4 linked regions of the Homo sapiens genome follow. The protein of the gene in region 1 interacts with the protein of each later gene in a pairwise test. Each region holds a gene or a part of one and is shown in the gene's direction. Other genes may lie near its edges.

What was found.
Region 2: the proteins of CEP70 (region 1) and SFR1 interact in binary tests that used the Homo sapiens proteins (3 or more experiments, as listed by UniProt).
Region 3: the proteins of CEP70 (region 1) and CLPB interact in binary tests that used the Homo sapiens proteins (3 or more experiments, as listed by UniProt).
Region 4: the proteins of CEP70 (region 1) and ZBTB49 interact in binary tests that used the Homo sapiens proteins (3 or more experiments, as listed by UniProt).

Annotation. Positions count from the first base shown.
Region 1 is NC_000003.12:138,493,826-138,500,270, reverse strand, and holds the end of CEP70 (centrosomal protein of 70 kDa), read left to right. Parts: intron 1-46; coding exon 47-161; coding exon of another isoform or gene 162-174; exon of another isoform or gene 175-387; intron 388-2,160; coding exon 2,161-2,240; coding exon of another isoform or gene 2,241-2,407; exon of another isoform or gene 2,408-2,935; intron 2,936-2,943; coding exon of another isoform or gene 2,944-3,008; exon of another isoform or gene 3,009-3,361; intron 3,362-5,194; coding exon 5,195-5,256; 3' UTR 5,257-5,927; downstream 5,928-6,445.
Region 2 is NC_000010.11:104,117,931-104,125,198, forward strand, and holds the start of SFR1 (swi5-dependent recombination DNA repair protein 1 homolog), read left to right. Parts: upstream 1-4,240; 5' UTR 4,241-4,253; coding exon 4,254-4,266; exon of another isoform or gene 4,267-4,835; coding exon of another isoform or gene 4,836-5,034; coding exon 5,035-5,156; intron 5,157-5,783; coding exon 5,784-6,194; intron 6,195-7,268. UniProt on the Homo sapiens protein: Component of the SWI5-SFR1 complex, a complex required for double-strand break repair via homologous recombination. Acts as a transcriptional modulator for ESR1.
Region 3 is NC_000011.10:72,298,526-72,305,553, reverse strand, and holds part of CLPB (mitochondrial disaggregase), read left to right. Parts: intron 1-2,592; exon of another isoform or gene 2,593-3,205; coding exon 3,206-3,250; exon of another isoform or gene 3,251-3,589; coding exon 3,590-3,751; exon of another isoform or gene 3,752-4,821; intron 4,822-5,092; exon of another isoform or gene 5,093-5,188; intron 5,189-5,373; exon of another isoform or gene 5,374-5,591; intron 5,592-7,028. UniProt on the Homo sapiens protein: Functions as a regulatory ATPase and participates in secretion/protein trafficking process. Has ATP-dependent protein disaggregase activity and is required to maintain the solubility of key mitochondrial proteins.
Region 4 is NC_000004.12:4,300,227-4,307,254, forward strand, and holds part of ZBTB49 (zinc finger and BTB domain-containing protein 49), read left to right. Parts: intron 1-1,762; coding exon 1,763-2,865; intron 2,866-5,911; coding exon 5,912-5,958; intron 5,959-7,028. UniProt on the Homo sapiens protein: Transcription factor. Inhibits cell proliferation by activating either CDKN1A/p21 transcription or RB1 transcription.

The DNA of each region.
Region 1 (6,445 bases):
TTTTGGAAATTCTCTGTTAAAATATCCTTTTATTTCTCTTTTGCAGATAGTTCATCCTCATTGTGTGTGCTAGTAAGCACTGTTGGAAAACTCTGTAGGCTGATTAATGAAGATGTGAATGAGCAGGTTATGCAGGTATTAGGACCTGAAGACCTCCAGAGGTATTTGTTTTAAAAGTTTACAAAGTATCATCCAGAATGGCTGGGTGTGGTGGCACACGCCTGTAGTCCCAGCTACTTGGGAGGCTGATGTGGGAGGATCACTTGAACCCAGGAGTTTAAGTCCAGTCTGAGCAAGGCAGTGAGACCCTGTCTCTAAACAATAAAAATTAAAATAAGTATTATCGAGAGTTCCTGGAGGGGTGAAATTAAAGACTTTCAAAACTTATTTACCTTCCCTGTTTGGAATAGCATCTTTTGTGTGTGTGTGTGACTGTAAGCACACGCCACCACGCCCAGCTAATTTGTGTGTGTGTGTGTGTGTGTGTAGAGAGAGAGATAGAGACAAGGTTGCACCATGTTGCCCAGACCAGTCTCAAATTCCTGGGCTCAAGTGATCCGCCTGCCTTGGCCTCCCAAAGTGCTGGGATTACAGGTGTGAGCTACCATGCCCAGCCTTGGAATAGCATCTTTTAAGTAACTTGACAATCTAAGATAATCTCAAACCCTTAGGGATGGAGGAAATGCCAAATATTTTCAAGATAAAAATAGATTGTAAGGCCTATAAAGAAGGTCAGGTACTCTTCAGCATAAGCCTGTTTTCAGGAAATATTATATATGGAGAAATTCAAACCTTGTTAGCAACATCATGTAAGTTCTGATTATATCAATAAGTTCTATTTTTAGGACACTACCATAGACCACTGAATAATCATTAATAGTATATTTATTTGATTAGAAGATAAATGTTGAGGAGTTTTTAAAAGACTAGGCATCTATAACATAAAAGCTGGTATTTTTAGAAAATATCAAGACATTGTAGCTATAGTTAAAGCAACTTTCCCCACACCTGACCCCCAATTTTATATTACAGCATATGTGAAGGGAAACACACAATATATACCACATAAACCATATGTTTTGCAAGTTTTCCTAGAAGAACCCTTACATAATCTGACACTTGGTGCTTTTAAAAGGAACATATATCTTGCTATTGGCCTATTTCTTCCTTCCCACAGTTTTACTGACTACTGATTTTTTTTCTTTTTTTCTTTTCTTTTTTTTTTGAGACAGAGTCTCACTCTGTTGCCCAGGCTGGAGTGCAGTGGCTCAGTCTCAGCTCACTGCAACCTCCGCCTCCCAGGTTCAAGCAATTCTCATGCCTCAGCCTCCTGAGTGGCTGGGGTTACAGGCATGCGCTACCACACCCAGCTAATTTTTGTACTTTAGTAGACGTGGGGTTTCACCATGTTGGCCAGGCTAGTCTCGAACTCCTGACCTCAAGTGATCCTCCTGCCTTGGCCTCCAAAGTGCTGGGATTACAGGCATGAGCCACTGTGCCCAGCCTGATATTTTTTCTTAATGTTTAATAGGATACTGGGTGTAAAAGCCAATTATTTTTAGAAAATGCTGTAAAAGCATGATCTAAGAAGCCTTGAGCTTAATGGGAAATTTGCCATGTTAAGAATGTTGTATATTGGCTGGGCGTGGTAGCTCACGCCTGTAATCCCAGCACTTTGGGAGGCCGAGGTGGGCGGATCACGAGGTCAGGAGATTGAGACCATCCTGGCTAACACGGTGAAACCCCGTCTCTACTAAAAATACAAAAAATTAGTCGGGCGTAGTGGCAGGCACTACAGGAGGCTACTCGAGAGGCTGAGGCAGGAGAATGGCGTGAACCCGGGAGGCGGAGCTTGCAGTGAGCCGAGACAGCGCCACTGCACTCCAGTCTGGGTGACAGAGCAAGACTCTGTCTCAAAAAAAAAAAAAAAAAGAATGTTATATATGAATTTAACAAATTTTACATTGATATTGAAATGCTTTTTTAAGAAAAGTGATATTGGATTAACAAAAAGCTCAGAAAGAAAAGACTGTAGTAAATGATCATTAAGTTTATATTTAAATTAGCAATATAGTTTCTATTTTGAAAATGTTCTGTTTGCAATCAGATGCAAGAACCCAAAGTTAGAAATCAGGTTTAAATTGTGCATTTTTTAAACAGCATTATCTACAAATTGGAAGAACACGAGGAATTTTTCCCAGCATTTCAGGCATTTACTAATGATCTACTTGAAATCTTAGGTAAGATCTCTGGTGGTGATGGTGAAATTTTGAGTCTTAAAATGTCAGTGCATTTAAGAAAAGGGTGTTCCTTGGTCACTGGATTAGTATTTTTACCTAGTGGTTGGAAACCACTAACAGTTCTGGAAACACATTCCTTACAAGCAGTTAGAGTTTGTTTGGATTAGTCCATAGAACAGAAACACAGACCCTTAACAGCAATAGGAACTACCTTTGTTGGAGGACCTTATCATGAGAGATGGCATCATTCTGTCCATGCCTAGTTTAACCCTGGCTCTGTCATTGTCTAATGAGAAATATTCTTAGGATTTATGATCTTAGAAGGTCCTTCCTCCCTCCTTTTTTTTTCTTAAGATACCACCTATCTACAAAATTTTTTAAATATACAAATAATATTTCCTCTCTGGTTATATGAAGTAACATAAAGTCATAAATATCTGTGGAAAGGAAAAGATGAAATATTACACTTATACTGAGGGTCAGATTGAGGGCTTCATTAGTAGTAGTGTCTCCTAAAAGGAAAAAATTTGCTTAGGACTCATAAGGCAAAATAGAGACCTTATCTAGTTTAAATATAATTACATATGGCTATAAAATTATTTATCTTACTATTAAGAATGATTTTTAAAGTTTTAAAGTGATGTATTCACCAGTGAATTTTTTCTGTATAGCTCATTTGAAAGATTTTTTTTTTTTTTTAAAGAATGGCTCTTTGCTTTTAGAAGAGGAGATGAAGCTTGGTATGAAAATAAGGGAATGAGTCAATGAAAACTTGATAAGAAGAATAAGTGAAAGAAGTATCTAATTAGAATATATAGCCTACTGAACATAAAGGAAGTTTTGTGACCAGTCTTATGTGCAGTGGGGAAGCAAGGGAGACAATGAGTGAGCTTGCTTTAGGCTTGTCCTCATGTTTAAAAAGATCACAGCAAGTGAAAATGTAATTTGAAAGTTAAACTTGAGATGAGGTATGAAACTGTATAAGTGTGTTGTCTGATATCCTGAAGAGCCTGGTTTCATAGAATAATATGATTCTTGCTTTGGGATTGCTATTAACTTAAGCAGTGATGTTCTCATCATTCATAAATATTTGGCACATTAATAAACATATTTTAATAGGGTGTGCTGGTAACACTTATTTCAGAATGCTTCTATAGAAACTTCCTTTCAGATATTATGACACTCAGCATGGTTCATAAAGATCATTTGCTTCAGAAAGCCAGGTTTCTCTGGAGATGAATTCTGTAATTTGGTCAAAGTTGAAGTTCTGGTGTTAAACATTAACATTGGGAAAGTTAAATCTGGCAAACATGACAGTTTTTTTAATTAATAGGTGTCACTAAGCATGTAGGTGCAGGGTGGCATACTGAGTAACAGACATGGAGAGTACCTTTAGTGAGTAAAAAAACAATCCATTCTTTTTCTCATGTAAATGGTGTGATTGACTGAGGAAATTCCCATATCGGCCAAGGTCCTTTGCTGTGAGGTTCATTTGTAAGGCAGGTTTCTCACTTAATGAGAAAACAGGTGTAATTTCAGAATGGGCAGGGGGCGGAGTCAGGGAATACCTTGATCTTGTACCTTACCACAATGTAAGGGAATTGTAAACAAATTCTCTGTTGTAGGTTTGCTTATATTGTTTCTGTTCCCATATCTTGATGCTTTGTTAGTGGGTTCAGACAAGTATTCTGACTGAAGTCGGGAGCTTAAAAGAACTAAATGAATAGTAGGAGAGCATGGGCTATGTGTGTAGGCTAAGTGAAGAGCAACCAAGATCCAGCTACACAATGGAGAGAGTTGGAATCCAAGAAAGCATGCTTTATGTAAGGGAACGCGTTTATTAATGATGGCTTAACAGAATAAGCTAGAAAAAAGTGTGGGTATCTAGAGAACCTGCCATTGTGGCTTACCTTAAGTAGGGCTGGGATCTGGATAATGAGAAAAAGGATTTTGCTCCTTTGGTGGCCAGGAGCTTCAGAGAGTGAATTCTAACTTAGGCTGGTTGGAATAAGATAGTCTTAGGAAGAAAAATCAAATTCAGAAAGAGCCTGTCAAAAAAGAGCCTGGATTGGTTTATCTGGTAAGCTGGACCAGGCTAAGCTCTATAATATATTGTACTTGAGGTTTGTACACTCGATGAGGCTATCTTTTTGATTAGGCAGATAATTGTTTTTTTTGAGACATAGTCTTGCTCTCTGTCACCCAGGCCAGAGTGCAGTGACGCAATCTCAGCTCACTGCAACCTCTGCCTCTGGGGTTCAAGCAATTCTCCTGCCTCAACTTCCCAAGTAGCTGGGATTACAGGTGCCCACTACCACACCCAGCTAATTTTTGTATTTTTAGTAGAGGTGGGTTTTCACCGTGTTGGCCAGGCTGGTCTTAAACTCCTGACCTCAGATGATCTTCCCGTCTCGGCCTCCCAAAGTGCTGGGATTATAGGCATGAGCCACTGCACCCAGCTGGCAGATACCTTTCATCTTAGAGTGATCCACTACTAAGAAATCTTCCCAAGAAAATTAAAGAGGACAAGACTGTTCTATGAGAAGAAATTCCTAAGTCCTCACGTGGAGACCTAGGGAGGAGACGCCTCTACCTGGGATTTCATCATGTAGATGCACCCGTGTAGTGATACAGATCTAATGAGACACTAACATATCACACATGTGGGCAGTTGGATCTGTTAATAAGGACATGCTGCTAATGAAGTTAATACTAGAATCAGAGGGTACTTGTGGGTATGTGGTAACTTATATAAACAGAGCCCCTGTGAAGCATCTGTATCCGAATCAGTGATAATCTATCATCACTATCGGAGAAAAACTTCATGTGCACAAAAGCACCAGTATTATTGCCTTTATGTTTGGGGTTTGCCTTTGCATATAGGTTCTTGTTTCATGTGAGTTTACCACTAGAAAAAGTTACTCTCTTTTATTATTACTGTTTTTGTATTACAGAAATTGATGACTTGGATGCCATTGTACCTGCAGTAAAGAAATTAAAAGTACTTTCATACTGAAAACAAATCAAATCATTTTTACTGTGTAAATTGTATTCTTAACATTTTGTATTTTGTAGGATTGATCTTATTTTGAGACAAGGGTTGTAAAATGTATTTGCTCTCAGAATTCATCCCCTTCTTAGTATTAGGTCATTCTTCATCTGTATAATTTTTATTAACTTTGAGATTCTTATACAGAAAATAGTTGCAAGGGTAAGGTAATTAACTTTAGATCCCTTCATTTCTAAAGCAATTATTGAGTGCTTAAAATTTAAGGTTGTTTTAGAGTGGAGTTTGTGAGTAAAAGAGGAGCCCAGGGAGACAGATTGCAAGTAGTAGGTTGCAATCTTTTAGATTCAGCTTGTAATAATCTTTGAGCCACACCAAAAGGAATGCCAAGGGCTCTCTAAATTTAGCCAGTAGGAAGCTACTGCTCTCCTGGCAAGGATTAATTGGCACATTCTGTTAAGATATCCCTCATGACAGTTGCCCTTTCAAAGCAGGAGGAAGAAAAGGAAGAAAGAAAAACTGTTTCATCATTTCTGTTAGGGTAGGAAATGAATCATAGGGTAAAATGGATGAGTAGATAGAAGTCTCTCATTTAAAAAGTGTCTTTTGCAATCTTGATGTAATGCACTTTTTATAAGGACTTGAGATCTCAAATAAAATTTCTGTAAAGAATTTCCAAACATAAGTGTCCTCAGTGATGCTTGTATATTACTGACAAATAATGAGTCATATTCTCTTCCTAGGCTGAACCTTCCTTGGGCAACTTGTACATCCTTGCTGCATTTTATGTAAGAGTACTTTACTTGCTGCCTTCTGTTTATTCTGTATTCTCAATATGCAGTCACGTTTTCTTAAGGGTCAGCGTTCTGCCTCATACCCATAAGTACAAGTCACTTTGGACTATTCTTCCCCACTTTTATAAGCAGCAGGTCTAGGAAGATTTCTCTGTCATTCTTGTTGGTGGGCATATAGAATATTATAACACATTTCCAGGAAGCAGCATGGTGGAATGGTGAGTAAATGTCAGCAAACAAGCATCCACATCCTTGGTGTTATGACCTTAGGGATCAGACGTAAGATAATAGGCTCCTTCTAGATTTAAAATTCTTTGTCATGATAGCCTGCAGTTACATTTCTAAACACTAACTTACAATTTGTGGAAGACCTTGTGTCTTGAGGGTTGGGTACAAAAAGCATT
Region 2 (7,268 bases), on another chromosome or scaffold:
AACCTGAATCACTCTATTCTTCTCCAAGGGAACACACCCAGTAACAGCAGTGAATCATAGACACTATTGCCTCTCTAGTCTCTAATGGATTTGACAAAATGCCAGATCTGGGAGAATAAAAGGACAGGAAATTCAGGTGAAGGGAGCTTTTTAGGTTCTTGTTTAGTACATTGTCCTGAATATTAGTTATTAGATACATTTTCTAGCTGCCTGGTGATGGAAAGGTTTCATTGTGCTAATAATACTGATCCTCTCCGTATCTCCGTGTTCTAAGTAACCATCCTACTCAGTGAGGCAATCGCTCCGGCATGCCTAACAGCTATGTCAAGGGCCCTTTTCTCTTGAAGTTGATAATAAAACCCTCTCTTGCATATCTTGGCTAAAGAATATGAAATAGTTAAATCATAAAGGTCAATGTTTGGTAACAAAGTCTCTACAAGTGCAGCCATTACACATTATGGAATTCCATGTGAGATCGTTAAGGTAATAGAGAAAAAAATAGAAATATTTGTCAATTATTCTCAAAGAGAAATTTATGAAATTACACAGCACTAAAACATCACTTTACCATGGATGGGTCTATAAGATGCGACTTGAATTCATGGCAAGAGAAACTCATAGAAGAGTTTTTGAAGGGCATTTTCAACTTATGTACAAATGTCATAAGAAGTGTTGAAAGTCAGTTAAGAGAATTTGGCAGATTTTCTTGTGTTATAAATTTGTATTAAATTTAGTTTGTTTAATTTGTCCTAATGGACATCATAAATCAACAGAATCATGTGGATTTTACACAATTCCTCACCCAAGTGGATTTTAATCCTAGTTTCAGAAGCGTATATTTTTATCTTTGTTTCTTTTTTTTTTTTTTTTTAGAAGGAGTCTCTGTCGCCCAGGCTGGAGCGCAACGGTGTGATCTCGGCTCACTGCAATCTCCGAATCTCCGCCTCCCAGGTTCAAGCGATTCTCCTGCCTGAGTCTCCCAAGTAGCTGAGACTACAGACGCCCACCACCACGCCCAGCTAATTTTTGTATTTTTAGTAGAGACAGGATTTCACCATATTGGCCAGGCTGGTCTTGAACTCCTGACCTTGTGATCAGCCCGCCTCGGCCTCCCAAAGTGCTGGGATTACAGGCGTGAGCCACTGCACCCGGCCTATGTATTCGTTTCTTTTAAAAAAAAACCTATGGATACTAGTTATGTCTACATGACACAAAAATTTTTGTCAATACAGAAAAGTCTATGGTAATATAATTTAAGTTAGCTTGAGACTATTGTTAAGATTAAAAAATAATACTAAAGCTGAGAATTTAAAAATTAAAATGAACATTTTAATTATGGCTAAAAAGTACGTGTGTTTGTGCTTTTTTGTATAGGTAGAGAGAGAGACTGAGAGACTATTTACTATTCTTTTCTTGCCATTAGACAAGAATAAGAATAAAAAAAATTTTTTTGTAAAACCTCATAAAGATTTTAGGTCTATATCATCATCCCACCAACAATAATTACAGACAAGAACGAAGCATTTTACCACTCCCTGATGAGTAACAAAGTAGCCAACAGTAGCCTTGGGTATTGAAGAAATTTTAAAACACAAGGAAAGCCTGACTTAAGTTGATATTAATTACTATTATTATTGGAGTCTACTGCTTAAATTGTTCTCTATGGCAGGGTAAGGAGTCTTTGCTTCCTGGCTCACTGGGCCAGTATTTTTTCCTGCCTGAAAAGTTTCATACGAAACATACAATGTCCTGTGTCAGAAACACCAAAGTCTTCACAGGCTAATAGATTTGAAGTCACTTAAGACATTGAAATGTACGCTATGCTTTATCTAAAGGTACAATTAAAAGTATGGGGGCTATATTCCAGATCTCTGACATGAAGCCGAGAGGAAACTGGATTTCCAGTTTGTTATGTGAAAAGGTTAAGTAAAATACAAACTTCTGTACAGGGAGATAATTCAGTTCTAATAATGCATGAAAGCCAGAGATGTAGATCAACAAATGCACATTTCTGAAATACGGGTTTTTCTGAGTATATGTTCTGAAGTTCTTTGAAAATCTGGCCAAACAATCCCATTTTAAGATACCAGTTCACATAATAAGCAAGTCAGAACATTTGCAAGGCAAAATGTTGTTTTCCTTTCTGCAGCCAGGAAAAACACAGCTCTAAGCTTAGGTTGTAACGGTAAAAGGATTTGGGAGCTGCTGATTTTAGAGACTCATAAAAACAACTCGCCCTTATGCCGGGAGGTATAAAGAATATGCAGAGTCTGCACTGTGCTTCTAGTGTCAGGACAAATCATTCTGCTTTTTCTTTGAGATTAACTGATGCCAATGGATGAGTAAAGGGAGAAATAAATGTACAGACTGAGACCTGCAGCTTGGTGAGGTGAGTAACACCTTTATCACAAAATCATGAGTTCTCTCTTCCCCTTTGTAAATTCCTTGGGGTTAACTTATGTAATTTTAAAAAATTTTAGGAGTGAAATATGTATTATTAATCATATGTGAGGCTCTACATTTTCTGCTATTTATGGTTTATATTGTGTGGGATCTTACAGATCACAGCATCTTTTTAAAATATATGTGCTTTTTTGGGGGGTGGGAGATAAATCAAGGGGTGAAACTGAAGGTGATACATTCCCTTAAATCCATTAGGGAATGGTGAATACACTTGCATATATAAAATAACTACTGAGTGCTTCCTAGATACCTAGCTCTGTTCCAGCTGCCTCTCACCAGTTCTCATTTAATTCTCCAATCCCATATTAAGAGGTGAAGAAACTGAGGCACAGAATCACCTCATTAAGAAGCACATAAAGTATGGTGCCAGGATTTGAACCTAGACAATTTGACTGTAACGTGTACGCCCCTAATCATTCCCTTAGGTAGTCCTCAGGTTCTGTAATTATTATACCTGACTGCTTAAGACTCAGGTAACTCCCTTTTGGCCACTTCTAAGCCACTACTGTCAGATGTTATTAATAGTAAAGAGACGATATCAATGTTTAAAATGGCCATTCAATAAGAGGACTGAAAACACTGGCCCCTGGAAATTCCCAACTTCCACGTGACTCAGAAGTTACTCAACTCTTTCACTAAACCCAGTGCTCCACCCAATGTAGCTAACTTTGTCGTCGCGTAGCAACAGAACCTCGCCATACTGGAAGCGGGGCGCGGGGGGGGGATTTTCTCGACTGAGGATGCTGCTGCCCGGTAGCCAGCAAGGGCCCTGTCGGTCTCAAACGTGAATTTTGGACCGACACAATCTCATGTAGTGATTGTTCTGCTTCCTGTGTTGCGCCACAACAAATTTCCTTGGGCTACATTTTCCCTCAGATTTGAGTAAAAGATTTGAGGTCACGCTAAGGAGCCTGCATACTGAGGTACAGAAACGGTTTTTTGTTTACAACAACAACAAAAAACCTCGCGACGGGACCGCCGAGTTTGCGGCAGCCAAAAAAGCTAGCGATGAGCTCAGCTAAAGTGCCGGGACTCTCGGATAGATTTCTAACATGTTTGAAATGTGGACCCCAACGCTGGAACCCAACGCTGTTCTTTTGTGGTCTCTGGAACCACCACGCTGGAATAGGCTGGAACCCAACCAACGCTGTTCTTTTGTGGTCTCTGCCTCTGGGGAGTCCACAAGCTGTAAATCTAACATGCAGCCAGCCGTGCGGCTTCTGGCCGCCCCACGTCTGAGTAAAGCCTTCACTGTGACTAGCAGGGAGAGGAGACTGACTGGAGCCAGAGAATGGAGGCGGCGGGCTGGCGGGGGTGGGGAGAGGCACTTTCAGGCGCACTTCACAGACGCACAAAAACAAGGAAGCCTGAAGGGAAGGCGGTTGAAAATAAGGCAACAGAAGCCGCGAACGGAAGCGCGCCCCCCTCAGGATTGGTTTAACATTCCGAAGCTCAGCCTCGCCCGCCCCGAAGACCTGCTGCGGATCGCGGCCGCGCGCGCGCGCACTCACGCTGCTCTCGGGCGCTGGGCGGGGAGAGCCGCGCGCACCGGTTAATTCTGCCAATCATGCGTCTGGGCCTCCCATCGTGTGGGCCAAGCCCCGCCCCAACCACCCGCTGGCGGAGGCGCGCGCGCAGTCCCACCGCTCTGAGTCGCTGAGTGAAGCGGCGCCTCGCGCGTCAGGCAATCTGGCCAATTGCGCATCTTTTCCGCCTACCGCACGGCCCCGCCCCTGCCACAGGATCGATTTACGGCCGCAGGTGCGCGCGCTTTTTTGCTCTCGCTGGGAATGGCGGAGGGAGGTACCCTGCTGAGGGGAAGGGGGGATCCCTGACACCTGGGCTTCCCCGGGAGTCGGCTGTGGAGTCGAGTTGAGCTCCCTTTCCGGGTCTGGGGAACTCAACCTCACCTTATGCCTGGGGTCTCCGGGGAACTAGTGGGCTTTCTGCAACGGGGGGAAGGAGGGGACGACTCCCGCCCCTAGTTTACCCCTCAAAAGTTAATGCCTTTGTCGGAGGAAGCAATTTCAGTCCACTCTCCTTTTCAGTCCCTGTTGGCCGCTTAAACTAAAAGGCTACAGACGGGCTTAAATGCGTCTCCGCTGTGTTTCTTATGCCTCGGGCCGGCAGGGTAACGGGTTCTAGTCACAGCTTGTAGAGTTCAGGATGGGTGACATTCAGGTCCTATTGTTTTTGAGTCAAGGTTTCGGCTATAGCTTCTTGAATTATGAAGCTGTCATAATAAAGAATTCCTGATTATCTAAAGCTGTTATTCTTCCCTACTTCCAAGGCAGAATTTGAATATATTTTGGTGGATGAAACGAAAACAAGGAGAGTCTTGTGACTATGAGATACTAGCTGGTTGATGTATCATGAAAAACTTAGTGGTCCCTATGTGGGAAGGTAAATGGAAAACTGCAAAAAGAGCAAGAATGAATTACAAAGTGAAATTAGAAGAAATATCTGGCTTACTTGTGGATGCTTTGTACACCAATACAATATATTATTTGATAAAAGTCGACTATAGAGAGGTGTGGTTAATTCGATTATTTTATAATTTTTCTTTTTTAGAGAAAAACCAAGATTTCACTTTCAAGATGGAAAGTCCGTCAGACTCAGCTGTGGTTTTACCTAGCACTCCTCAGGCCTCTGCGAATCCATCATCTCCCTATACAAATAGTTCCCGAAAACAAGTATGAAAATCTTTGTTCTTCCAGTGGATCCATTATGTGTTTCTAAGTATTGTGGCAGTGGTGGTTTAAATTCTACGGAAGGTTGTTAATTAACATAATGTGTAGCATAAATAAGTAGACATTTTATTAAATAATTTTGTTTTTCTTCTAAGGTGACATATATGACACCCACCAGCCCCCTTCCATATTTTCCTCTTGAATGAATTCATTTCAGTTAGTTTCAGATTAGGTTATTACAATACTCCAGATGGAGAAAGTTTGCATCTGTGCAATATTATTATGAAGGTCTTTAGTGGCAGAGTCTAGGTCTTTTCCTTACTCTGTAATTCTGAAGCACCTGGAGTACTATCAGGCATGTGCTTGTTACTGAACAAATGTTCCTTGATTACTGGGATAAACTTCTCAACACTTTTGGAAAGGTGTTGATCTTGCTGAAGTAAAAAGGAAATAAAACAAATGGAGCTTCCAGAAATTAAAGTCATTTTGTGATGCCTTCTTTAGATGTGGAGACAGAAAGCCATCTAGTGGTGTCTAGCATAGAAATGGAAGGACTTTATTTCTGGTGATTTATTGACATTAAGAATGTTTTTCTTGATTCACATTTTTAATGTTTTGTGCTCTTTATAGCCTATGAGTGCAACACTTAGAGAAAGATTAAGGAAAACAAGATTTTCATTTAATTCCTCTTACAATGTGGTGAAACGTCTTAAAGTAGAGAGTGAAGAAAATGATCAGACCTTTTCAGAGAAACCAGCATCTTCCACAGAGGAAAACTGTTTGGAATTTCAAGAAAGTTTTAAACATATAGACAGTGAATTTGAAGAAAATACAAATTTGAAAAATACTTTGAAGAATCTCAATGTCTGTGAATCTCAGTCACTTGATTCTGGATCATGCAGTGCTCTCCAAAATGAGTTTGTGAGTGAGAAGCTTCCTAAACAAAGATTAAACGCTGAAAAAGCCAAATTGGTGAAGCAGGTTCAGGAGAAAGAAGACCTTCTTCGGAGGCTAAAACTAGTCAAAATGTATAGATCAAAGGTGAGAAGAATTTCAGGACCATTGCATAATTTTTATTTTTACATAAATTACAGGAAAGTAATTTCAAAAATAGAATTTTTTTTTTTACCATAATAAGCAATAAGCCAAATATTCAGAAACCTGGCTTCCAACAGCTTTAATTCAACTCCAGATTTAGAGTAGAAAAGGCCCTTAAACACCAGGTAAAACTTTTTAAGAATCTCAGCTCTGATTTAATATGCAGTTAAACTTTTCTCTCTAGTTTCTAGCCCACAGCAATATTAGAAGTATTAAATGTTAGATGCAAGTACAATGGGAACAGAAGTGAAAGCTGACAGTGAATTAGTAAAACTAAAAATGGGCTGTAGAGTACAATAAAAGGTATTTTTAGTAATGATCTTGTGTCTCCCCCAAATAATTAATGTGATTCAGCCATTTTATTTGAGAAAATATATATATATATATATTATATTTTAGATTTCAACCCATATAGGTTGAATTAAATAGAACTTGGGTACTTGGAAGGAGAATAATCTTTATTACCTGGAAAATTCATATATATGCAATAGCTCATTTTCCCTGAATTACGTGGAATAAGTGATGGGATAGTGTATCTCATTTGTTCTCTTGAAATTCTGGAGTTTTTAAAAAATAAAATTTAGGAGTATTGAATGTTGAAAAAATATATTTTATTTATTTATTCATTCTTTTTTTAGAGACATGGTCTCTGTTGCCCAGCCTGGAGGGCAGTGGTGCAGTCATAGCTTATTGCAGCCTTGAACTCCTGGGCTCAAGTGATCCTCCCAACTCAGCCTCCCTAGTAGCTGGGACTACAGACATGTGCCATCACACCTGGCTAATTTTTTAAAATTATTTTTTTGTAGACATAGAGTCTTGCTATTTTGCACAGTGTAGTCTTGAACTCCTGGGCTCAAGCAGTCCTCCCACCTTGGCCTCCTAAGGTGCTGGGATCCCAGGTGTGAGCCACCATCCCCAGCCTAAAAAAATATTTTTAACTTGAATATTGTAATTTTAAAGAGCAGTTTTAGGTTCATAGCAACATTTAGTGGAAAGCATAGTGTCATTTTTTAAAAA
Region 3 (7,028 bases), on another chromosome or scaffold:
ACTTTACCCCTTGAAGTTTCAGCTCTCTTGCCTCAAGGTGAAAGCCCTCCAACCCATATCTTAGGTTATGGTGAGCATCAAGTGACGATGCTGTGTGCTCATCACTTATGTCATCACATCATGGTGAGCACACAGCAAGTGCCTATTCCTTGACTTGTATTTATTCGTCACTTCCTACTTACCATAGCAGTGCCCCATCTACTCTCCCATTTGATCCTATGGGGAAGATAGCATGGATGCTAAATTAGACCCACTTTTCAGATGAGAAAACTGAGGCCCTACAGCATTCTTAGGCTTATCTAAGGTCACCTATTAGGGGAAGAAATAAAACCAGAATCAATCCAGTCTCTCAACTCCTCACTGTGATACCGTTGTTCTCAGCTGCTCTAGGAAGCTGGATTGGAAACTTGCCAGTGTGTCCCCATTTCACATTGGGAGATGAGAGGCATGAGAAGCTCCATAAAAACAACCATGTATTTTATTTTTAAATCATAGGTGGTGCTTCTATGAAACTCCTGCCTGTGCTAGCCCTGTGGGTCAACTCATTATAGAATCTGTGTTTTGCGTAGACACTTTATAGCCACATGACAGGCATGTTTGAGACCTGCCTTCAAAATCCAAGAGAGCCCTGGACTTTAAGCTACGTAGCCAGTGTACCTGGGACCCAAAGAGTGATGTATGGAAAGTGTCATTCTCAGAGCCCAGTGTAAAATAGACTTTTACCAAACAGAAGCTCCCTTTAATTTGCCTCCCAAGACAGCTGACGAAATGAAATGAGCACTGGCCTGGAGTCTGATGATGTGAATTCTAGTTCTGGCTCTCTGATCCCTAGTTTCTTCATTTGTAAAGAGACACTGACACCTCCAGATCTTGCTGCTTCAGAAGCATTCTTTGTACATTTATATGATTTCTTTATCAGATCTGTGAACTTATTTTTTTCTCTCATTAGCCTGTATACTATTTCTTCCAAATTGAGTGGCTCTGTTAACTTTCCTTACTAGAGCTAATAAGCCTTGGGAAGGAACCTTAATGGTGTTCTGTGATATCATCATAAGGTAGGGTGGTGGAGCCCAAAAGACTTAGTTATAGTAGCAATATGATAAGGGATAAAGAACAACTATCTGAGTCCAGCTGCTTGGGTTCAAATCCCAACTGTACTCTACTAGGTGGAGTTGGCCAGGACCTCTGTTTACATCAGCTTTCTCATCTGTAAAGTAGGCTCCATAATGGTGCCAGTCTCACTGGATTGTTCGGAAGGTTAAATGAGATAGTGATGTAAAATGTTAAACGCCGTTCTTGGCATGTGGTAAGCAATCAGTACATGTTGGATGTTACTCTTATTGTTCTTGCCTCACTAAGATCATGTGAAATCAAAATGATGATTCCGGCCAAGAAAGTCAAGCCCAAAAACTTGTTCAAAATTACATAGCAAATCATTAGAAGAACTAGGGTGAGAACCCAGGTCACTTGACATAAGTAAGCACGAGAGTCTATAGTCCATCTGTCGTCCGACATTCATTGGCATCTGGACACAAAGCTCAGCACCCTTCAAGGTGAAGACTGTCAAGAGCCCAGCTGATTGGCAGAGAGGAAGCTATGAGGCAGTGTAGCATGATGGCTAAGAGCACAGACTTGGAGCTGAATTGCCAAGCGCAGGTGACCTTGAGCAAGTTACTTTAATCTGTGACTTAGTTTTCTCATCTGTAAAGTGGAGATGATAGTAGTGCTTACCTCAGAGACTTGTACATGTTCTAAGCCCTTTATAGCTTGCCTAAAACATTGCCAGGCACATAGTAAATACCCAGTAAATCCTGAAACCTGCAGATCTCTTGACTGAGCAGCCTAGGGACCCTCTGGAAATGCTTTCTGGCTTATGCCCCATGTGCTGATAGCAGTGCTTTCCCCCATGTGGCCTTAATAACTTCTCTAAGCCCTGTCCCACCTCTTGGATTAGATCCTCAGACCCCTGGTGAGGCAGGGAGAGGAGCCAAGAGCCTTCTGTAACACAGGACAAAACTGCAGCTCAAAAAGGGGAGGCAGCATGTCCAAGGCTCCACAGGCAGGCAGAACTAGGACTGGAACCCGAGCCCCCTGGCTCCCAGCCCAGGGTTCTTCTTGCCACCCTGTGTCTCAGCTGTAGAATGACAGGACAGAGAAAGAACTAAAAGTACATCATGGCGTGAATTTCTGACCAGTGGCCAAGCTAGAATATAGCCCTGGATTTCAGACATAGCTACCTCCCGCTGAGAATCTTGGCACCCCCATCATCACCGGCTCTCAGGAGAAGCAGGATTCAGTGAATGCTGTCTCTTAGATGGAGGCATGTGCCAGTAGGAGAGGAGCCCGGGGGACTGTGGGGAACTGTGGTCCTGGCTGTGGCTAGACAGGGCACCTGTGGATGCCTTTACAGCTCCCTAATCAGGTAATGCTTCTTGAAAACCAGTGGGCACTCTGCCTGTGTTAACTCTTCAGATCACATAATGCAAGCTGTTCTCTTCCCCAAGGGCTAACCATGGCCCTCACCCATGGGGCCACTTCCTCGGAAATCACCCCTACACCCTGTGGTGGAGAGAAAAGGGCTGTAAAGCTATGTTATGGATATCTTTTTTAATGAAATGAAGAAATGTAAATACATTTTAAAATATATTCATTTTGAAGAAAAGTAAATCAAAGGGACACGGGCATCACACAGACTTGCAGAGTTGAGAGGCATTCTGGAGCCATCTGAGTGTTTCTCTCCTCCCTCGCACCACAGTCCACACTGATCGTGACTGACTTTGTCCATGTCTGCACCATTCGATGGGGTGCTTCTTAAGGACAGAGACCAAGACTTGTTCCCTGTTGTAACTCCGGTGTCCAGCACACACAGGATGCCCTCAGGAAACGTGGAATGGATGGATGGGTGGGTGGATGATGTGGTGATCAGAACAGGAGAGGCCTCCCTGAAAGAAGACACCCCAAGTCAGATTTAGAAGGTCAGGTACATGATTTGGGTCTTTTAAGGAAGAGAATGAGGGACTCGTAGGAAATGAGTGCACAGAAAAGGAGACAGGAAGTCAGAAAAAAACATCTTGAGCGTGAGATAGAAGATCTTATGTTGGTGTGGTGTGAAAGCCTTGGGGATAGTTGAGGTGCTCTCCTCCCTAACCCTTCTCTTCACTTTCCTGCCTCCAAACGGAGTTGGTACTTGCTTGTTTCCACACAGGGCTTCATCAGGCTGGACATGTCCGAGTTCCAGGAGCGACACGAGGTGAGTGATGACAGTCCTTGATTGAAGCATGGTTTGGAGGGCTTGTCAGCATGACTGCCGGGGTCTTGTCATTTGGGCCTCAGATAATTCCAGCAGCCTTGGGATTTGTCGTTGGGAGCACAGGTGTGCAGCAGGGTCACTGATTTGTTTCACATAGGATTTGCTCTGAAGAATAAACATAGAGAAGATCTATCTGCCACACCAGGAGATGGACAGCCAATCATCTCTGTTGAGAGAGGCAACCTTAATAGCGTATAAAGTCATCTTCCCATGCATGCCCCATGTTGGAAACTAAAAGCACAGAAAGGCCTTCCTAGCATGTTTCCTTCCTTCTACCAGGTGGCCAAGTTTATTGGGTCTCCACCAGGCTACGTTGGCCATGAGGAGGGTGGCCAGCTGACCAAGAAGTTGAAGCAGTGCCCCAATGCTGTGGTGCTCTTTGATGAAGTAGACAAGGCCCATCCAGATGTGCTCACCATCATGCTGCAGCTGTTTGATGAGGTGAGTCACCTTGGGCCAGGATGGAGCGGGGGGACACCTGGAGATAAGGGGGACTGTGAACAGCAGAAAGCAAGGGCCCAGAGGCTAGCTGGTCATTCCTCGGCTTCCTGCTCCCGCATGTGTACATTCATTCATCCAGTAGGTGCAACTTAGCCCCTCTGCACTAGGGCCTGGGTGGGGCACTCAAGCGAAGACCAGCCCTGCCTAAGAGTTGAAATTGTGTGGCTGCTCAGCCCACCTTCTAGAGAGACATGGTATGGCAGAGGTGCCATGAGAGCGAGACATGAATTTTTAGTTCCAGCTCTGCTCCTGACTGGCTTTGTGGCCTTGGCAAGTCACTGCCCATCTCTAGGCATCAGAGATCTCATGTGACAAACGAGGAGGCTGAATCAGAGAAGCCCCAAAAATCCTTCTGCCTCAGACAGCTCTTGTTCCTCCCTGTGTGCCAAACATTGTCTCCTGCAGTTCTTTAAAATGCTAATATTGTTGCTGCTAATGGTGAGATGCTGATACTCTGATTCATGGAGCCTTTCTCTTCTGAGAATCTGAGGGTTCTCACAGACTGTCCAGTTCCCCTGCTCGTAGGGGTAAGTTCTAAATGGAGAGAAGAGCTTACTTCTATCCAGTACCTTCTGTGTACTAGACCTGTACTAAAGACGTTACAGCCATTATCACTAATCCTCACAAGGTAGGTAGAAAAATTCCTAACAGGCAAGGGAGAAATTAGCTCATTTTTTACAGATGAAGAAACTGAGGTTCAGAGAGGTTATAAAAGACATGCCTAAGGCCACAGCTGCTGTGTAAAGAGCCAAGATTGGGCTGCAGATATGTCTGATCCCAGAGCCCCAATTCTCCCCCCATACCACTGTTTACCTTGAACCAGGCGAGGGATTGCTTACGATCACGGAAGAAGATGACTTCCACCTTTTCAGGGGCCCTGCTCCATCAAGAGAGCGTGAGGAGCCAAGGACTGAACCGGGGATGAGGCCTCTCTTCTCTCATGCAGGGGCTATATTAGCTAGCACCTGGCCATGAGTCCAGCTCACCTTTCTACCTAGTCTCCTGCAGCCCTAGGAAAACAAAAAGGTGGTTTGCTTCCCATGTCATAGGAGGCCACAGGGAGGGGACTCCTCCAGACCGAACAGCACATCAGGTACCAAGCCAGGAAGATCCAGATCCAGATCTCCTACCAGCTGCTCACTGCCTTCCCCACCTGGCCCAGCCTCCTTGCCCCTGCCCGTTCCGTTGTATCTTCCTAGCCCTTCAGCTGCTCCCTGCCCCTGAACCTCTGCTGAGGAAGAAGAGACCAGTCCTTCAGAGGTCACATACTCAGTTACTCACGTGTACACTGAGGCCTCTACTCCATTCCAGCCTCTTGATGGGATTCAAGTGCACAGCTATGACCAGACCCGAATGTGCCCTCTTGGAGCTCTCTGCCTGGTAGACAGGTGGAAAGGAGACATGGTAGTAGCTGGCATTTTGCATTTTGTGTGCCATTCGCTGTCTTCAGAGGCTTATGTGTATCAATTTAACCCTTTCAACAACCCTCCAAAGCTAGCTATTATTACGGCCTCCATTGAACAGATGTGGAAACTGAAGCAAAGTAAGATTAAGTCATTTACCTGTGGTCATGCAGCTGGGGAGAGAGAATCAAGGATTCAAACCCAGGCAGCCCAGTTCTAGATCCTGCAGCTTGAATGACTGCCACGCAGCTAGGGCCAAAAGAGCGAGGTCCGTCTCAGTGAAGCACGCAAGGGACGGGACCATGCCGCTGAGGGAGGGTGAGCATCGCGGCCTGTTTGATCTCTGGTCTCCCTGGAGAGGCACCTCTGATGGCATTCTTGGCCCAAAAAACAGAAGGCAACTGCTGACTGAAGTACAATCAGCCATACATGGAAGCCCTGTCTCCCCCTCCTCCGTCACTTCACTCCACTGACTGCCTTTTAGGGGTTGATAGGAATTCCTTCCTGCAGCTGTTGTCGCCCCTTCCCCCAGCCCCAGCCTACTATAGTTTCTGATGCTCTTGGTTCCATTGACCAAAGCTGCCATCCAGGTTTACTCGATTTAGGCTCTTTGAGGATGGGCCCTTGTCATGTTCACTTGAACCATTCCCAGAGCCCACAAAGTCAGGGGAAATGTTGTATTGACTAATTTAATTCAACAGTAGTTTTAATTCAACAGTAGTTAGCAAACCTTCAAAGGGTTAGTAAGTGCTAGGTGAACAGAGTGGCGGGGCTGGCAGTAGAAACCTAATGTATAAAAGTACAGGGCATGAAACAGGCTGGCATGCTCAGGGAACTGCAGCTGGTCAGTACTGCTCGATTGCAGAGGGAAAACAAGGACAGAGTGCTAGAGACAAGGTAGGTAAGGTAAACAGGGCCCAGTTAAAATGCCAGGCACAGAAGTTTGCATTTCTCTGGTAGAGAGTAAGGAGCCTTTTAAAGACTTTAAGCAAGAAAGAAACAGTCAAATTTTCACTTTACAAAGATGCCGTGGGCAGCTGTGTAAAGAATGGATGAGAAGGGAGAGGGTCATTAACAAGGAGACTGCTGGGGAGCCCAAGCTACAGCTGGGGAGGCCATGGGCTGGAGAAACTACTAGAAGGTTGACTGAGGAGAGGAGGAGGAGCCAAGGGTGGCCAGTTGGCTGCTGCCAGTTGGCCATCAGCTAAGGCGGCGAACACAGTGGGAAGCCGCAGATTGAAGAGGAAGGTGAGGCACTGAGGTGTGGAAATGTTGAAGGTGAGATACCTGAGGGACATCCAGATGGAGATGGCCAAGGGGCCGTTCATCAGTTTTATGGGTCAGGAGTTTAGGAAAGGTCTGACTGAAAATAGCAGTTCAGGAATCCTTCAGCCCAGAGAGGTTAACGGAAGCCACAGGAATGGATGAGGTCTGTAACCCAGGGAGTGTATAATGTGCAGAGAAAAGAGGGCTATACACAGAGCCTTGGGACCTATCAGGGAAGTCAAGACAGACTCGCCAGAGAAGTAGGAGGCAAAACCAGGCCAGGCATGATGGGTCACACCTGTAATCCCAGCACTTTGGAAGGCCGAGGTGGGCAGATCACTTGAATTCAGGGGTTCGAGACCAGCTTGGGCAACATGGCAAAACCTTGTCTCTACAAAAAATACAAAAATCAGCTGGGCATAGTGACATGTGCCTGTAGTCCTCACTACTCAGGAGGCTGAGGTGGGAGGATGGCTTGAGCCTCAGAGGCTGAGGTTGCAGTGAGCAGAGATTGCACCACTGCGCTCCAACCTGGGCAACAGAGCCAG
Region 4 (7,028 bases), on another chromosome or scaffold:
GAGTTGTTTTAATTTTTAAGTTTGTTAACCATTTTTATTATTTTTGCTTTTGTGTTTAGAGTAACCTGAAAAGAAAAGAGGCTCTTAAGTAAAATGAATTTGGGATGATTGAAAGTATTTTGGTTGTTTGTCTTTCATTTTACTAATTCTGGCTAATGTCAGTCTTCTACATATATTTCTTATCCTTTCAAGATAAAATGATGGAGGAATTAAGTTCCCGGTCAGAATTTTTCTGTGATAAGAAATCAGGGGAAAAACATATTTGGTGTTGGATTTTTCTTTTCTTTTTTTTCTTAATTAAAGCATTTTAGTTTTTGTTTCTCATTTGAATATTCTAAGAAAACCTTATAATCATTTTGGCTTATATGAAATATTTATTTATAAATAATAATACTAAGAAGTTGTGTTTCAGCTTATTTAAACATTATTCTGTATTCCCAGCTACTCAGGAGGCTGAGGTGGAAGGATCCCTTGAGCACAGGAGTTGGAGGCTGCAGTGAGCCGTGGTCATGCCACTGTACTCCAGCCTGAGCAACAGAGGGAGACTCTGTCTCTTAAAAAAAAAAAAAAATTGTTAGAGTTAAGTGATTCTGCATAAGTTCATTTTGTTGTTAGCAGGTTTCTCTCTCTTTAAATACAAAGTCTTTTTTTTTTAAAGTACTTTTTGTTTCCAAAATGCATACCGTTTTACTGCTCTAGTAGACAACGTGGGACATGATTTGCTCTTTCCTTGATAATCCTGAATCATCAAATTGAGTCTCAGTTATTGTATAGACCACATTACACATTGTAATGAATCAGCTTCTTAAGGTAGGTAGCAGGTTTTGTTCCTAGGAAAAATGGTCGCAAACTCTTGGGTTTGCTATCACCTGTTTTTTCTGTCTTCCCAGGACAGTTAAATTTTGATATTGTGATACACAGGCTGTTTTGCGCTTAAAAACAGAACTGAAGGCTGTTTGGGGGAAATAGGTGATTGTATTTGACAAAATGTCTTCAACTTACTTACCTGAGCTTATTATTTCATACATAATACAAATTTGTTCACCTGTGACCTTGGCTTGTACCCAGAATAAAGTGCCTGGGCTTTAGAGTGCATTTTGGTCTTCACTAACTCTTAGGGTTTTTCTCACTGTTGGTTTTTGAACCACTGGCTGGCTGAAAAACCTAACAGCCAAATAAATTACTGGTTACAAAGGAATGTATGTGGAGGGTTGGTTTATTCTAGCTATTTTTTTTTAAGTTTTCTAGGCACTTAGATGTGGAAATATTTGTGTATATGGTTTATGGCCTAAAATATAATACTTGTCAGACTATGAAATAGTGAAAAGTATATATTATTTAATTTTGTGTACTCTATTAGTATGTATTTAATATATATGGATAATTACCTTTCGAAAAAATATTTAGAGCAATCTTTTATTTCTTAGATCATATTGGGAATTATCTTAGAAACTTCTTGATTTGTGGTTTATCAGTCATATAAATGTATGTAATTTTTTATTGTGTAAATTTGAGTATATTTCAAAATTTACTTTGAGATATATTTTGAAGTCTGCATACCCAATCCACCAATTTAATTCATCTGAATTATTTAGTTGGATGGTTTGCCAGGTTGTTTTAAAGGATTAAAATGTACTTATGTTAAAAGTTTTGACATTCACAGAAGGATAGTATTTTTTAATATTAATATATGAATGTTATTTATAAGAAAAAGATGGTGTGAATTTTTGGCACTGTAAACAGATATTCTTTCTTTTACCAGGAGCCTCTTTCAGAATTCTTCAAGCCAGAAGAATGATGTTTTTCACTTGGATGTTAAAAATGTCAGTGGCATAGGGCAGATCCTGGACTTCATGTACACTTCTCATCTAGATCTTAACCAGGACAATATACAAGTAATGCTGGACACAGCACAGTGTTTGCAAGTTCAAAATGTTCTGAGTCTGTGTCACACATTTTTAAAATCAGCCACTGTAGTACAGCCACCTGGCATGCCTTGTAATAGTACATTGTCTCTACAAAGCACCCTGACCCCAGATGCCACTTGTGTTATCAGTGAAAACTACCCCCCTCATTTACTGCAGGAATGTTCAGCAGATGCACAGCAGAACAAAACGTTGGATGAATCGCATCCGCATGCTTCACCATCAGTTAATCGTCATCACTCCGCAGGTGAAATCTCAAAACAAGCTCCTGATACTTCAGATGGCAGCTGCACAGAACTGCCTTTCAAACAGCCAAATTACTATTACAAACTCAGAAACTTTTACAGTAAGCAGTACCATAAACACGCAGCTGGTCCCAGTCAGGAGAGAGTTGTTGAGCAGCCTTTTGCTTTCAGCACCTCTACAGACCTTACCACGGTAGAGAGCCAGCCTTGTGCCGTCAGTCATTCTGAATGCATCCTGGAGTCTCCCGAGCACTTACCTTCCAACTTCCTGGCCCAGCCTGTGAATGACTCTGCCCCACACCCTGAGTCAGACGCCACATGCCAACAACCTGTCAAGCAGATGAGGCTCAAAAAGGCCATTCATCTGAAGAAGCTCAATTTCCTGAAGTCACAGAAATACGCAGAGCAAGTATCTGAACCCAAGTCAGATGATGGTTTGACAAAGAGGTTGGAATCTGCTAGTAAAAATACCCTAGAGAAAGCTAGCAGCCAAAGTGCTGAAGAAAAAGAAAGTGAAGAAGTCGTCAGTTGTGAGAATTTTAATTGCATTAGTGAGACGGAGAGGCCTGAAGACCCGGCTGCCCTGGAAGACCAGTCCCAGACACTTCAGTCCCAGAGACAATACGCGTGTGAATTATGCGGGAAACCTTTTAAACACCCAAGCAACTTGGAGCTTCACAAACGGTCTCATACAGGTAACTGATTCAGTACCCACAGGCAGAAGGGAAGGACGTAATGCGGATGCTCAGACACCACTGGCTCTTCTTGTTTTTGTAAGAAGTTTTGCTGTTGTTTGATGTCATTGATGATTTTAAACAAAATAAGGGGGATTAACTACTTTTTGTTTTATATTTTTGGTGATGCATCTGACTTAAAGTTTTGTAAATGGTTTTATAAAGTCACTTTAAAAAGGTGCATACTTTTAATTTTTATTTCAACTACATTTTTATATGACAAGCCATCTGTCTCTAAAGAAAGTATAGTAATTTTGGTGCACCCAGAATTTCAAATTAATTCTAAAATGGATAAGCTATATTTAGTTGTCTTTTTAGAATTAGATTAAGCTTATTTTTTGAAAGCATCATATAGGTTAATTTAGACTAACCTAATATACTTTGAATGATTCTACAAGTTCTCTTGGAAGGAATTTGAGTGTCTAATTTTTAAAATTCTAATTTGGGAGTCAGGAAGTAAACTTTTTAATAAGAATCAGCTTTAACCATTTGATATTCTCAAAAGAAAATTCTTCCAATTTAAACATTGAATTTTCAAAGTTTTGTTATCTTAATTCATGCCTCTTTCTCTTTCCCAAAAGATTTTTTTAAGGTATTCTCTCTCTCTCTCTCTCTCTCTCTCTCTCTCTCTGTGTGTGTGTCTCTCTCTCTCTCTATATATATATCTCCACACACACACATTATGTTATACAATACATATATATTACTTTTCTTCCTATAATTAAACATGAGTTTAATAGCACATTACAGATGAACAACAATTACCTTATAGGCATGAGAAGTAACATGCAACAGGATGCTTCCACAGCAGCTGCTTTTACGGTGTTTGTGTAATTGTGTTTGTTGATGTGACCTTCTGTTATCACTATGGATTCACAGTTTGCATTTTACGACCTTGTATTATTGGGAGATTTCTTTGATAATTGTGAAGGCCCTTTATACATTTTAGTGCATTTGAATATAAAGTACTGTTATTATCACTAGTAGTTCAAAATTATTCCACGTGAAGGCAATATCACAGACTTAGTTTTGCCCTGAAAAAACTTTAGATGATTCTGTTTGCCTAAATCTCCTACAGCCTAATGATTACTGCAATTTTTTTTTTTTTTTTTTGAGACAGAGTTTCGCTCTGTTGCCCAGACTGGAGTGCAGTGGCACAATCTCGGCTCACTGCAACCTCTGCCTCCTGGGTTCAATTGATTCTCCTGCCTGAGCCTCCCGAGTAGCTGGGACTACAGGCATGCGCCACCAATTTTTTTGTATTTTTAGTAGAGACAGGGTTTCACCATGTTGGTCAGGCTCATCTTGAACTCCTAACCTCAAGTGATCTGCCCACCTCGGCCTCCCAAAGTGCTGGGATTACAGGCATGAGCCACAACGCTTGGCCCGATGGCTGTAATTTTTTATTGTGAAACTTACCTGCTTAGCTTTTAAAGGAATCAAAAATTGTTTATTCTGGGAGAACCTCTTTGAATGACAGATACAGTCATGGCAAAGATGCTTACTGGCACATAAATATTCTACCGAGAAGGGCAGCAATTCTCAAAGTATGGTCTGGGGAACCCTTTTTGGGGGTCTGTGAGGCCAACACTATTTTCAAAATTGTCTAAGATGTTAGTTGTTTTTTCCTCCTCTTATGAGTGTACAGTTAGTCTGCCCAAAGCTACATGATGTGTGATGAAGTCCTCACCCTGGTGGCCTGTGAAGTGTGTATTTACCTGTTCTAAAGGTCACTCTGTTTTCATTTCCAGTATGGTAGATATCAATAGCTATAGCCCATATTAACAAAAGCTCTTTAGGACCTCAATTTTAAGGTGAAGGGGTCCTGAGGCCAAAAAGTCTGAGGCCTACTGGAGTAGGATTGTTAACCTTGGTCATTTATTAGTCTTAGTAACTGGTGACCTCTCTCTCTTTTCAAATTCTTATATTTCTTATGGGGGCTTTAACTTATTATCTGTCACCCCCAATAATTTCAGACATAAATGTAGTTTCATTTATTGCAATACAGAATTAATGTAATTATTAATTTATTATTAATATAAATATAATTATTCAGGGTCAAGGAAGCCATTAGACATTTTCAGGATAAAATAAAATTAAAATATCCTAGAATGAGCCCAGAAAGCTAGCAAGCTGCTTTCTTCAAGGTAGCAAGCCCCAACGATATAGTAGGAAGGGAAAACATTATTGTTACTTTTTAAAGAAGATCTTAATGAAACCATTTGATTTCAGGGAAATGGAGAAAATGAGAGGTTCTTAGTGTTCAAAGTCTATTCATTAGCGTTATATAGATTAAAGGCAGTACCATGGAGTGTGCTTTTAAATTCAGATCATGTTCTGTAGGCCACATTTCAGAACAGCTGTGGTTTTTTTGTAGTAGAGTACCATTCTTAGAATCTGTTCTGTCCCCAAGCGCAGTTACTTAGTTATTGAAATTAGAGGTGATAAAGAAGTCCGCAGAGGAGCACATCTCCCAAAATGAAATCTTACTTTCTCTCGTGAGAACCAAGGCAGGAAGACTGTGGTGAGGGGCTCTTTCCTTTTCACACTCATGCTTCAGGACGACCCACTGTGTTTGGGGCTCTCTGTGCTCATACCTTGTGTGGTGTGAACCAGTGACCCTGTGTCTGTTAGGATTGGTGGTTGGGTGGCATCAGGCTGAAGAATAGGTGAGCGGGATCGTGCTGTTCAGCAGGAAAACTCAACCACAGGAAAAGACCACTTCCAGAACGTGGGTCTGCTCTGGATGCAAATAAATACATTGATTTTAACATAAGTTTTGTTTGGAGAACAGTTTAAGTTTTTAGAGGAAAATATTACTTTTATCATCTCTGTGTAGAAATAAAGGCAAGAGAGAAATATAAGGAAGTAGACACTCCCTATTTTCATACTGTTAGGATGCAGAATGTAATGCCATTTTGAAAGTACATAGGAGGTCATTTAAACAAAAAATTATTGAACAAATACTAGTAATGATTTTACAAGTTGTTGTTTTGTTTTGTTTTAGGTGAGAAACCTTTTGAATGTAACATTTGTGGGAAACATTTCTCTCAGGTGGGAATACTCTTATTTATTGTTAATAATTGGAAACCTGCAACACAGTGTTTTTTTATTGGAAATAAGACATACTTTTGTACTTGTGAGAGAAGCCTCTAATGATGTCTGTAACTTAAAGACTTCAGAATAAATTAGGATAAATCGTTTTCAAGAAAACAGATTTCTAGTTCTTTGAGAGAAAAATAGCATTTTCATGTGTGAATTCTTACAATACTTTTTTCGCCTTGCTAAGGATGAGTCCAAACTTAGCATATGTCTTCCGTTTCATGAATGAAGTTCACAGTGAACCACCTTGAGCTTGGCGTACCTGGAGGCTGCACATTGTGCTGGGTTAGGCTGAAGACAACTAGGTCTCCTCATTCTTGTTGGGACTGTAGATTGTAGGATGTTGGAAAAAAAGATGAAACAAGTTTTGTTCCCTGTGTTGACTGCTACCTTTAGCTGACCTCCATTAAGGTCATTTGGACACATAGGCATTCAGTCCTTGAGGAAACGTTTGTTTTACCCTCCCATGGGCCAGGTGCTGTGCTGGGCATGGGACACAAAGAAACCTAGAGACCTAATGTTTTCTAGAAAATGGCTTGTGGGAACCTATTCTTTCTGAAACAGAAGGTAACTATTCACCGCCATGTGCAGTGCCCTGGGCTTCCAGAGGTAGATCAGATGGAAGCTGCTCCAGGGCGTGAGGGCGCAGCTCTTCAGGGCACAGTCACTGGCACGACTGTCTCACACAGCATGGTAGATCCTGTGGCAGCAGTGCATGCCTCTGGAGCTGGGAGGCAGGCCCCGCAGAGCTTGGAAATGGCAAGCGCCGTGTTTGCTCGCATTCCCCCTAGAGCAGACTCTTCCAGTTTCTCTTCATCTGTTGAGGGTGTCAGTTCCATTTGCTCACACACCCAAACCTGCCATCTTAATGACTCTTCACCCTCCCACTCTCTGAGTCCCTGCCTGCTGGGATTCACCAAGTCCTCGCCGTCTCTCATCGCGTACTCGGTCGGGTCATGTCCTCCTGAGCACTTCATTTCTCTGGGCCTGGGGCCATGTCTTCTCTCCCATCCAGGAGAACA